Regions from separate parts of the Homo sapiens genome. Here region 2 is linked to region 1. Evidence: fine-mapped expression QTL. A gene starts in region 1. The other region holds a variant in brackets. All regions are shown on one strand. Distances are between the middles of the regions.

The links.
Region 2: its variant is fine-mapped to the expression of ARMCX4 in whole blood (TOPMed, PIP above 0.99). The same link has a PIP of 0.9 or more in blood mononuclear cells, esophagus mucosa, esophagus muscle, gastroesophageal junction, monocytes and sigmoid colon.

Annotation. Positions count from the first base shown.
Region 1 is chrX:101,483,274-101,487,665 of GRCh38, reverse strand. It overlaps ARMCX4 (armadillo repeat containing X-linked 4), which reads right to left and starts at 2,210. Exons shown (of 6, transcript NM_001256155.3): 1 at 2,136-2,210; 2 at 1,574-1,643; 3 at 394-473; 4 at 1-58.
Region 2 is chrX:101,416,093-101,420,484 of GRCh38, reverse strand. It overlaps a transcript of ARMCX4 not described here. Among named protein-coding and RNA genes, the nearest start is that of HNRNPH2, 10 kb to the right of the region's middle. The variant C/A (reference allele first, on the strand shown) is at 2,115.

The DNA.
Region 1 (4,392 bases):
CCTCTTTGTTTCTTTGCTTCCAGTGATCTTAAGCCCTGCAGCAGACATGCAGGCAGATCTATGGACAAGTAAACAAACAGTAGGTAATGGAAACCGAGTCCCTGGTAGAACAGACAAGCAACCTGATCCCTGACCCCAATGTCTGCCTCGCCAGAGCCCAGGTTCTATATACTAATGTGTACCATCTCATGGTCCCCCCATCAAGTCTTCCCCCAGTCATACTCCAGCCCACCCTTACCCCCATATTCCTATCATTTCCTGCACTGAAATCCACAGGAGGCATGGCAGCACTGTGGCAATCCAGCACTCCACTGAGACCCTCTTAAATCTCACCCACCTCCTATGCCCACCCTCTCTTGTCATCCCCAGAGACTACCCCCACTTCACACCAACCTCCATGCTTCTAGATTGATCTCCTCCTCTTTCCCTTGCTTCCAATGGTAAACAGCCCTACTGCAGGCCTATGGGAAGACCTTGGAACAGATGGAGAAAAAGAAGAGAGTGGATGTTAAGTACTTGTGACACTTACCATCTAAGACATAGGTCCCTGTACCTGCCTGCCTGGATTTAGAGACCCATTTGCTGGCAGAAAAAAAAAAAAAAAAAAGCCTGGGGCTTCCCCAGCACTGAAATGGGAAGGATGGAAAAGGGAGGCAGGAAAAGTAAAAGGCAACAGACAGAGGCACGTTATTTTATTTTATTTTATTTTATTTTATTTATTTTATTTTTTATTTATTTTGAGACAGAGCCCCACTCTGTCACCCAGGCTGGATTGCAGTGGCAAGATCATGGCTCACCACAGTCTCGACCTCCCAGGCTCAAAAGATCCTCCCACCTCAGCCTCCCAAGTAGCAGGAACTACAGACTGTGCCACCATACCCAGCTAATTTTTAAATTATATGTAGAGATGAAGTCTCGCTATGTTGCCCAGGCTGGTCTTGAACACCTGAGCTCAAGCAATCCTCTTGCTTGGGTCTCTCAAAGTGCTGGGATTACAGGCAAGAGCTACTAGGCCCAACAAGGCAAATTATTTTAAAACCACCTGTAGGGTTCTAGGGATTTCCCCAAAAGCCCACCATTTCCTTCACCAAGATGGTCAGGTAGGTAGAGGGATCTGGAAAACTGAAGGATGGCAGGAGAGATGGGAGACCCCAGATCCCATACTCTAGAACCACAACCTACTGCTGTCCACGTCCCTTTCAACCTATCTCTAGGAGTCTCCAGCAGAAGAGAAAAGCTATAGGGGAAGCCTTTTGCTTCTACAAAATCACTATCCTTCCCCACCAAAGGCTATCTAAAAAATAATAATAATAATAATATTCTTTAATATAATTTATCTTTTTCTCAATATTATCTGAAATGCAAATAAAAGCATCTGTAGAAAAGTTTGCTGTCTTCATTGGTCTTCAACATACAATTTAAAAGTCCTAAGCTTGGTAAGTAAAATGCAGTTTAGGGAAAGTCCCCAAGCTAGCCCCACCCCACATCCCATTCAGACAGCCGCACCTAAGTTCCTGTCATAGAATTCATATGGAACTCCAATGGTTTAGATAGTGTCTGTACTCACACTAACCTCCTTGATCCAGTGCAGTTTTCTCCTCTCCTTCCTTTCTCCTCGCCGCAAACAGTGCTACACCGAACTACTGTCCGACAGACAGGAGAGAGTAAAACCACTTAGTGTTGGTCTAGAGCCCAGGACATAGATCCCAATACTCGCCTTTCCGGGTTCAGGAACCTGGTTATCAAACGTCCCTCCCCACAGTCTGAGACACCACCCTTACCAACCCCACCGTCCAGTCTCTAAGGCCCACCATTTTCTCTGCAAACGCCACCGTGGCGCATCCCTTCCACTAAATTGAGCAGGAAGCGAGCGGACATGTGTGGCCAGTGATTAGAGCGATGGGCATCTCAATCTCTGTATTTCCCTCTGGCAGAGACAATCTCCCCACAAATCAAAGCCCACGGTTCGCCTGCACAGATGTAGGCGGGGGCAAGGGGGCTAGGGAGAATCAGAGGCAAAGGCTCCTCGAACTTGAGGCAGCATAGACCACCGCCCCCTCAAGCCCCGTAACCGCTGCCGGGGTCAGTGAGCTTCTGCCGGCCTGGCCAGGGCGCGCGGGCCCCAGGGCCCTTACCTGCTCCGCTTTCCCCGGGCCCGATGCCAGCCCGCCGAGCGCAGGGCAGCGGGGAGCTGGTAGCCAGATGCGAGTGACGACTGCAACGAAGGCTGCGTAGCTCTGCAGCTCCGGGTCACGTGAGGACCGCGCGTCACCGCCGAGCTCGCCCTCCTCCCCAGCACCCCCTACCACCCACCAAGGGCCGGCGGCCAGTCACCAGGAACTCCCCCCTCCTCCACTCCGCACGCACAGACATCCCCGTTCTCTGGTCTGTGCTCGGTGCCCCAGTGCGCACGCGTTGTCACTCATCTCCGTCCTCTCCAATCTGAGGGCCCACAAGTGGCATCATCGCCTTGTGGTTGGAGTTTACCCATCTTCAGTTACAGGGGAGGGTCTGCATCCCCCTACCCACTCCCGGCCCTTGGCTGTGGCCTTTTATGTTTCTTCTTTGAGTAATCACTTATTTCTCTCTTAGACTATAAGACCAGCACTCCCCACCCGCCCCCTACACGACCTGCCCTCTCTAAGTACAATGCCTGCACCAAATGGGCTGTGGAAGGGGGTATCAGGAAGGAAAGCAGAAGGTGCAAGTAGAGCTTTAATTTTCTTTTTCGTGTTCCTTTTTTTTCTTTTAATATGACATTCTTTTCTAATATTGTAATCAGAAAATACAGTATAGCCATTTTCATTTGACACAAAAAATATTCAGGGTGTAAAAATAACAAAAGACTCATTCTTTTGTTTACATTATTTTGTGCCACATTTTAAAATGTCTTCTGTTACTGCAAACTATTTTACAGCTTTCAAAATTGACTAGTAATTCTTGACATTTTAAATACAAAATTGTCCTAAACAAAACCAGCACGTATTCAATATGATCTATAAGTTAATCTTTGGAAAGACATTTCGTTTTCTAATATTGACAATTTTACACAGGTGATTTGTAACTTTTGAAGTTCTGGCTGAACTCAGCATCTTTTTTCAGGTGTCTAAGACCTTCTTCAGAGAAGACTTCTAGAGGATATATTTAAGACCCAACTCCTGATGAGCCTAGTGCTTTACTAGTGACTTACCAAATTAACCTGCTTTACTAGTGACTTCCCAAATTAACCTGTTTTCCATTCAAGGGGCTTTATTTGGATTTTACATAAGCATGTAATCAGATCAGCCTCACCACACCCATGGAACAACCAACTGCTAGAGCTTGGATGGAAAGGAGACTTAACAGGTGGAATTTTCATCCGTCGTAACACTTGAGATCTCGCCGGTGTCTGCCATTCATGTACTACATACTACCCTAGCAGTGGCGAGTGTTCAATATTTTCCAGTGGAGATGGTGGTGAGGGTCTGTGGATGACTGTGAATCACTGCAACACACCTGATGTCCGTGTCATTATTTTTTTCCCTCACAAGTGGAAGGGCAATGTACAGGATCCCAAGCAATTGCCAAGAAAAAGAAGTTTTTTCATGTCCTGCCTTGTGTTACAACTTCACTGCACCTCCCATACAAGCCCCTCAGAATAATCCCAAAACTCAGGGACCAAATATGCAGAAGTTAGTCCCCACGCATCCACCTGTCCCCGCTGAGGAGTCATACTCCAAATATAGACCCTCCAGGCAGCCTCTTTCTTAGAACATTGAAATAGGACACCCCAGAGGGAGGGGCTCCACTGTGAGGGGCCCCTGTGTGGAGGAGGCCCTTTCAGGAGCCAAGAAAGGAAGTCCTAGTGCCTTACAATCTTACTAATGGCTTTTCAGAACTCAATTGAAAGTGACGAACTTACTTTCTCCACCAAAGGAAAATATTGATAAATTAATTGCATACAAATTTTAAACTTTGGTAAAGTAAAAAAAAAAAACCATAAACATTGACTGTCAAAAGGCTAACTTGTAATAATCTAAAAGCTCTTACAGATCATTAGTAAAATGATAAACAACCCAATAGAAAAATGTGCCAAAAGACATGAACAGATTTGTTCACAGAAAAGAAATAGATTACTAATAAACATATGAAAAGATGCTCAAACAAAGAAATGCAAATCAAAGCAACTATGCCTTACCATGTTTCAAGTATGATTTTCTCAAAGTTTAGAAACTTGATAATATTGTTGACTGGTTTGTCAAGAAATGGGCACTCCTCTACTCTGTTGGAGGCAGATATTGATGCAAGCTTTTTATATAGGGCAATTTGGCAAACTCTATTAAATGATAACTATAATATTTCACAAATTCTTTGACCCAATAATTCTATTCCTTGGAATTTAGCCAACCTATA
Region 2 (4,392 bases), 67 kb after region 1:
TCCCCACTGTACTATGAGCTCCTTGAGGACAGGAACTTAATAGGTGTTTTTCCTCAAATTTCCTCAGCACCCAGTACAATGCCTGGCAATAAATTGGTGGTCTTTTTTTTGTTTTTGTTTTTTTTTGAGACGGAGGCCCACTCTGTCACCCAAGCTGGAGTGCAGTGGCACAATCTTGGCTCATTGCAACCTCCGCCTCCTGCATTCAAGTGATTCTCCTGCCTCAGCCTCCCAAGTAGCTGGGATTACAGGCGCACACCACCATGCCCAGCTAATTTTTGTATTTCTAGTAGAGATGGGGGTTTCACCATGTTGGCCAGGCTCGTCTCGAACTCCTGACCTGATCCACCCGCCTCGGCCTCCCAGAGTGCTGGGATTACAGGCGTGAGCCACTGCATCCAGCCAATTGGTGGTCTTTTTAAAAAGAATTGTACCCTGGCAGGTCATGCTAATATATACTACTAGAAGCACTGTCTGAGAGTGCCTTCCGCCAATGGGAAACAGAGCCAGATACTAGTCAAAAGCAGTAAAGCCATATTTTGAGTACTATTATAATAGAGGAAAAGAGACTTCAGTATAGAACTAAGCTCAATCCAAAGACAACTAGGACAAGTGTGGATTTACAGTCAAGCAGCAGAGTGAGGGAGTCAGTAGAAAGAAAATTCCTAAGGGGAGAGAGATATCAAGGGTAGGGGGATTCTTGCTCAACTGACTAAACAGGATTCTCGCTCAAGGCAGGACAAGGTGATCAGGTATCAAGGGTGAGGGAGTTACTCAGCAGGACTCTTGCTAAAACTGGGCTAGGCAGGCCGAGGACAGGGCCCAAGGACAAGGTGTAGTTGAAAAGAAAGCTGAGAGGAGCCTGTCCAAAGTTTGCTCAAAGAGACTTTGTTACTTCCTCAGGCCAGTGTATGTTTCTTTATCTTTATGTCTTACTTTGCTGCTAGTCTCCCCACAAAATAGATCATATCCCCACTACTCTTTACTTATTATTCCATAGGCATTTTAAGAGCTTCTTTGAGTTATAATTTATATTTCATAAAGTTCTCCCCCTTTTCAAGTGCAAATTCAATAGTTTTTAGTAATTTATAGAGTTGTGCGAACTATCACCACAATCTAAGTTGGGACATTTTCGTTATCTCTAAAAGACGCTCCATGCCCATTTGCAGCCACTCCCAGTTCCCACCCCATAGCTGCTTTTGAAAGCCATCATATTTGCCTAAGGATGAAAGGTACAGCCTCACTGGAAAAGCAAAAATCAAAACTACCACGCGTGAAATAATTTGAGAACCACCAAGCACTAATTGTGCATTTCTGATTATTTTCTCAAAAACATTTAAAGACAAGTCAATGTGAACTAAGGAGTGGGAGGAGGTTTCAAGGAAAAGGTAGAACATTTTAAGGTTTTTCTGCAGAGGAAAAAGTGAGCAAAAAAAAAAAAAAGGAAAAGGAATTTAAGTTGAAAAATACTCCAACAAACGAACCAACATGTTTTCAGAACTTTTTGAAGTTCCAGTATGGTGCTGTCACGGTTGGTGAGCTGTCTGTCCTTGATCCAGTAGACAATGCGAGTTTCTAGAACAGAAGGATAAGGATTTATCACAAGCCATAAAAGCTGAAGCAACACTCAACTGAAAATAAACATGTATTGAGCGCCTACTGTGTGTCACGCAAGGGGCTCTGCGCAGGAAAAAAAAAAAAAAAAAAGGCTCCTCGCAGCTCCCCCTGCCCCGGCCAGGTGGCTGCGTGCCCCCTTCCGCCTAATCCCTGGACTGCCCTGGGGCTGAGAACTCCCCTGGCGCGAGAAGCTGGACTCCCCCGGGGACCGGCCCGAGATCACTCGGAGTCGGGGGCGTCCGGCACAGGCCAGACGCAAGGAGGACCCAGCTGGGGCCGGCCCTTCCTTCCCTTCTCCTGTCGCACGACTAGGCCTGTGCCCGGTCCCACCTGCCGCCCTCCCCCTCCTCCTAATGGGACCGAAAAGAGCCCGAAGGGCCTGGGAGGGCGGGTGAGGTTCCCAGGCCTTTCCAGATGCCCTGCCGTGTTTGGCAAAGCGATTGTCTTCCCTCTTGGAGCTCCGCGGACACCCGACCCCTCTTCCTCTCCCTCGCCAC[C/A]TTCCGTCATTCGCCACGCTGACCACTTCCCCTCTGCTGCCTCCCGCTGAAGCCCCAGCCCGGCCGCGGCCGCCATTTCCCGACAGCCTCTTCCCTGTCCCTTTCCCTGAAAGGAAATGTACTGGGGCGGGGCGGGGCGCTGTGTGAGGGTCTCGAGAAAGCCGCCGGGGAGAAGGAGGGATGGATTCTTTCCAAACTCTCTCCGCTCTCCCGGAGCCCCCTACCTCACCCTTTCTCCCCGAATTCTTGTGGGCTTGGGAGCGAGAGAGAAGGAGCTGGTCCCAGCGCTAGTCACCGCCACCCTCAGCCCACAGATCGGGGGGGGCACGGGTACTCGTACACCACCCCATAAGGATCCCAGCCATGTCCTCTTTCCTTCGCCAGAGCTCATTTCCTCCTCCCTTCCAGCTTCCTGCCCTTTCCCCAAGACAAAGTTGATGTTTGCCTTCCCTGAGACTCAATTTCCTCATCTCTAAAGTGGGATGACACGTAAGAACATCTTGTATATGTGAAACATGCCCTGTGCAAAAGAAGGGGAGCAGGAAGAGGGATACAGGGAGAAAAAGGGCCGTGGAAAAAGGGTCCTTGGAATGTACGGGTAGATGTTCTAAAGAATGTATCGGTCAGAGCATTAGGATAGGTTCAGAAAATAATTACTGAATATATTATTTTGATTCTTAGATGTTATCTCTCACTATTTATCTCTTCTTTCAGAAGCCTAACATTCTCTTCTCAGAGGGCCAGATCGATGTGTGTTGTGTGCATTTATCTGTGCTGACCACTGCTGTGACGGAGGTGGTGGGGCGTCCATTCACAGGCTGCAGGCACAGGGACAACATAACTGTGGAATCCTAATTAGAAAAAAGGAGTTAGGCTGGCTGGAGCAGGGGAAGGCAAAGGGAGAAAGCAAATAAGCTATAAGTTTGTCTTTCTTCATGGTCCAGAACATATAAACAAAAAGAGGAATCAGATAAGCTATAGGTCTGCTTTTCTTTATGGCCCAGGACATGTGGCTTCTTGCGCAGATAACATACATAACTCACAAACTTCCTGCTCACTATCAAACGCCTCAATTTATCAAACACCCCAGCTAACAGAAGAATGCAAGCTAGCTCCCTACTGCCTTGGTTTTCTCAATCAGCCCAAAAACCATCCTATAAAATCTCCAGCAAGCCTTTGTTTCTTTTCAGTCGGCTCCTCTCTTGCAGGCTGCCCGTTGCCTTCTCGAAACGTATTTTCCTACTTTCTCTAATAAATCTGCCTTTACCTCCAACTGTCTTGGTAAATTATTTTACCCCTGCACCACCAGCCCAGTTAGTCGACACTCCCCCGCGACGATAACCCCTCACCTTCCCAGCGGAGTCCTGCACCATGCTAACCTGGGCCCCTTGGGCATGCCTGCTTTGCACTCATGAGAAGACAGTTTTGGTCATTGTGGGAGCAGCTTGTAAAGGGTTCTTGTGACACTCCCAGCCTGGTATAAGGCACAGCAAGTGGAATTTCCTTCCATCAGCAGCTGTTTTGCAATAGCCCTGGAGGCCCATCTTGGAGAAATCTTCATTTTAGCTGACAGCACTAGGAATTCTACCTGATGGAAAAGGAGCTTGATTTATAAACATATTCGCAATGCATTTTCGTATCATTTTGCTGGGTAGAGAAGGCAGAGAAGATATGTCATGCTTACACATGGGATTGTCTCTGTTTTGGTTACCTCCTTTAGGGTTGGATGAGTGAATGCAGGAATCAATGAATGGGTGGATAATGGAATCCATGTATCCATCAGCCAGTAGTTTCCTGCAGCAGAACCACCCTGAGCACTTGTTAAAACACAGCTTATTGGCTGGACAGAGGTTCACACCTGTAATCCCAGCACTTTGAGAGGCCAAGGCAGGAGGATCTCTTGAGCCTAGGAGTTCGAGACCAGCCTAGGCAACATAGTGAGATCCCGTCTCTATAAAAATCATTTTAAAAAATAACTGGGCTTGGTGGCACTCGCCTGTAGTCCCAGCTACTCGAGAGGCTGAGGTGGGAGTATCACTTGAGCCTGGAATTCAAGGCTGCAGTGAGCTGAGATCGCACCACCGCACTCCAGCCTGGGCAAGAGCGAGACCCTGTCTCAGAAAAACACAAAAAACAAAACACAACTTGTTGGGCTCCACACCCAGTTTCTGATTCAGTCCTTGGGGGAAAGGGACGAGGCGGGGGGCGGGGGGGCAAAAAGAATCTGCATATCTCACAAGGTGGAGGTTCATGCTGTTACTGATCAGGTACCACACCC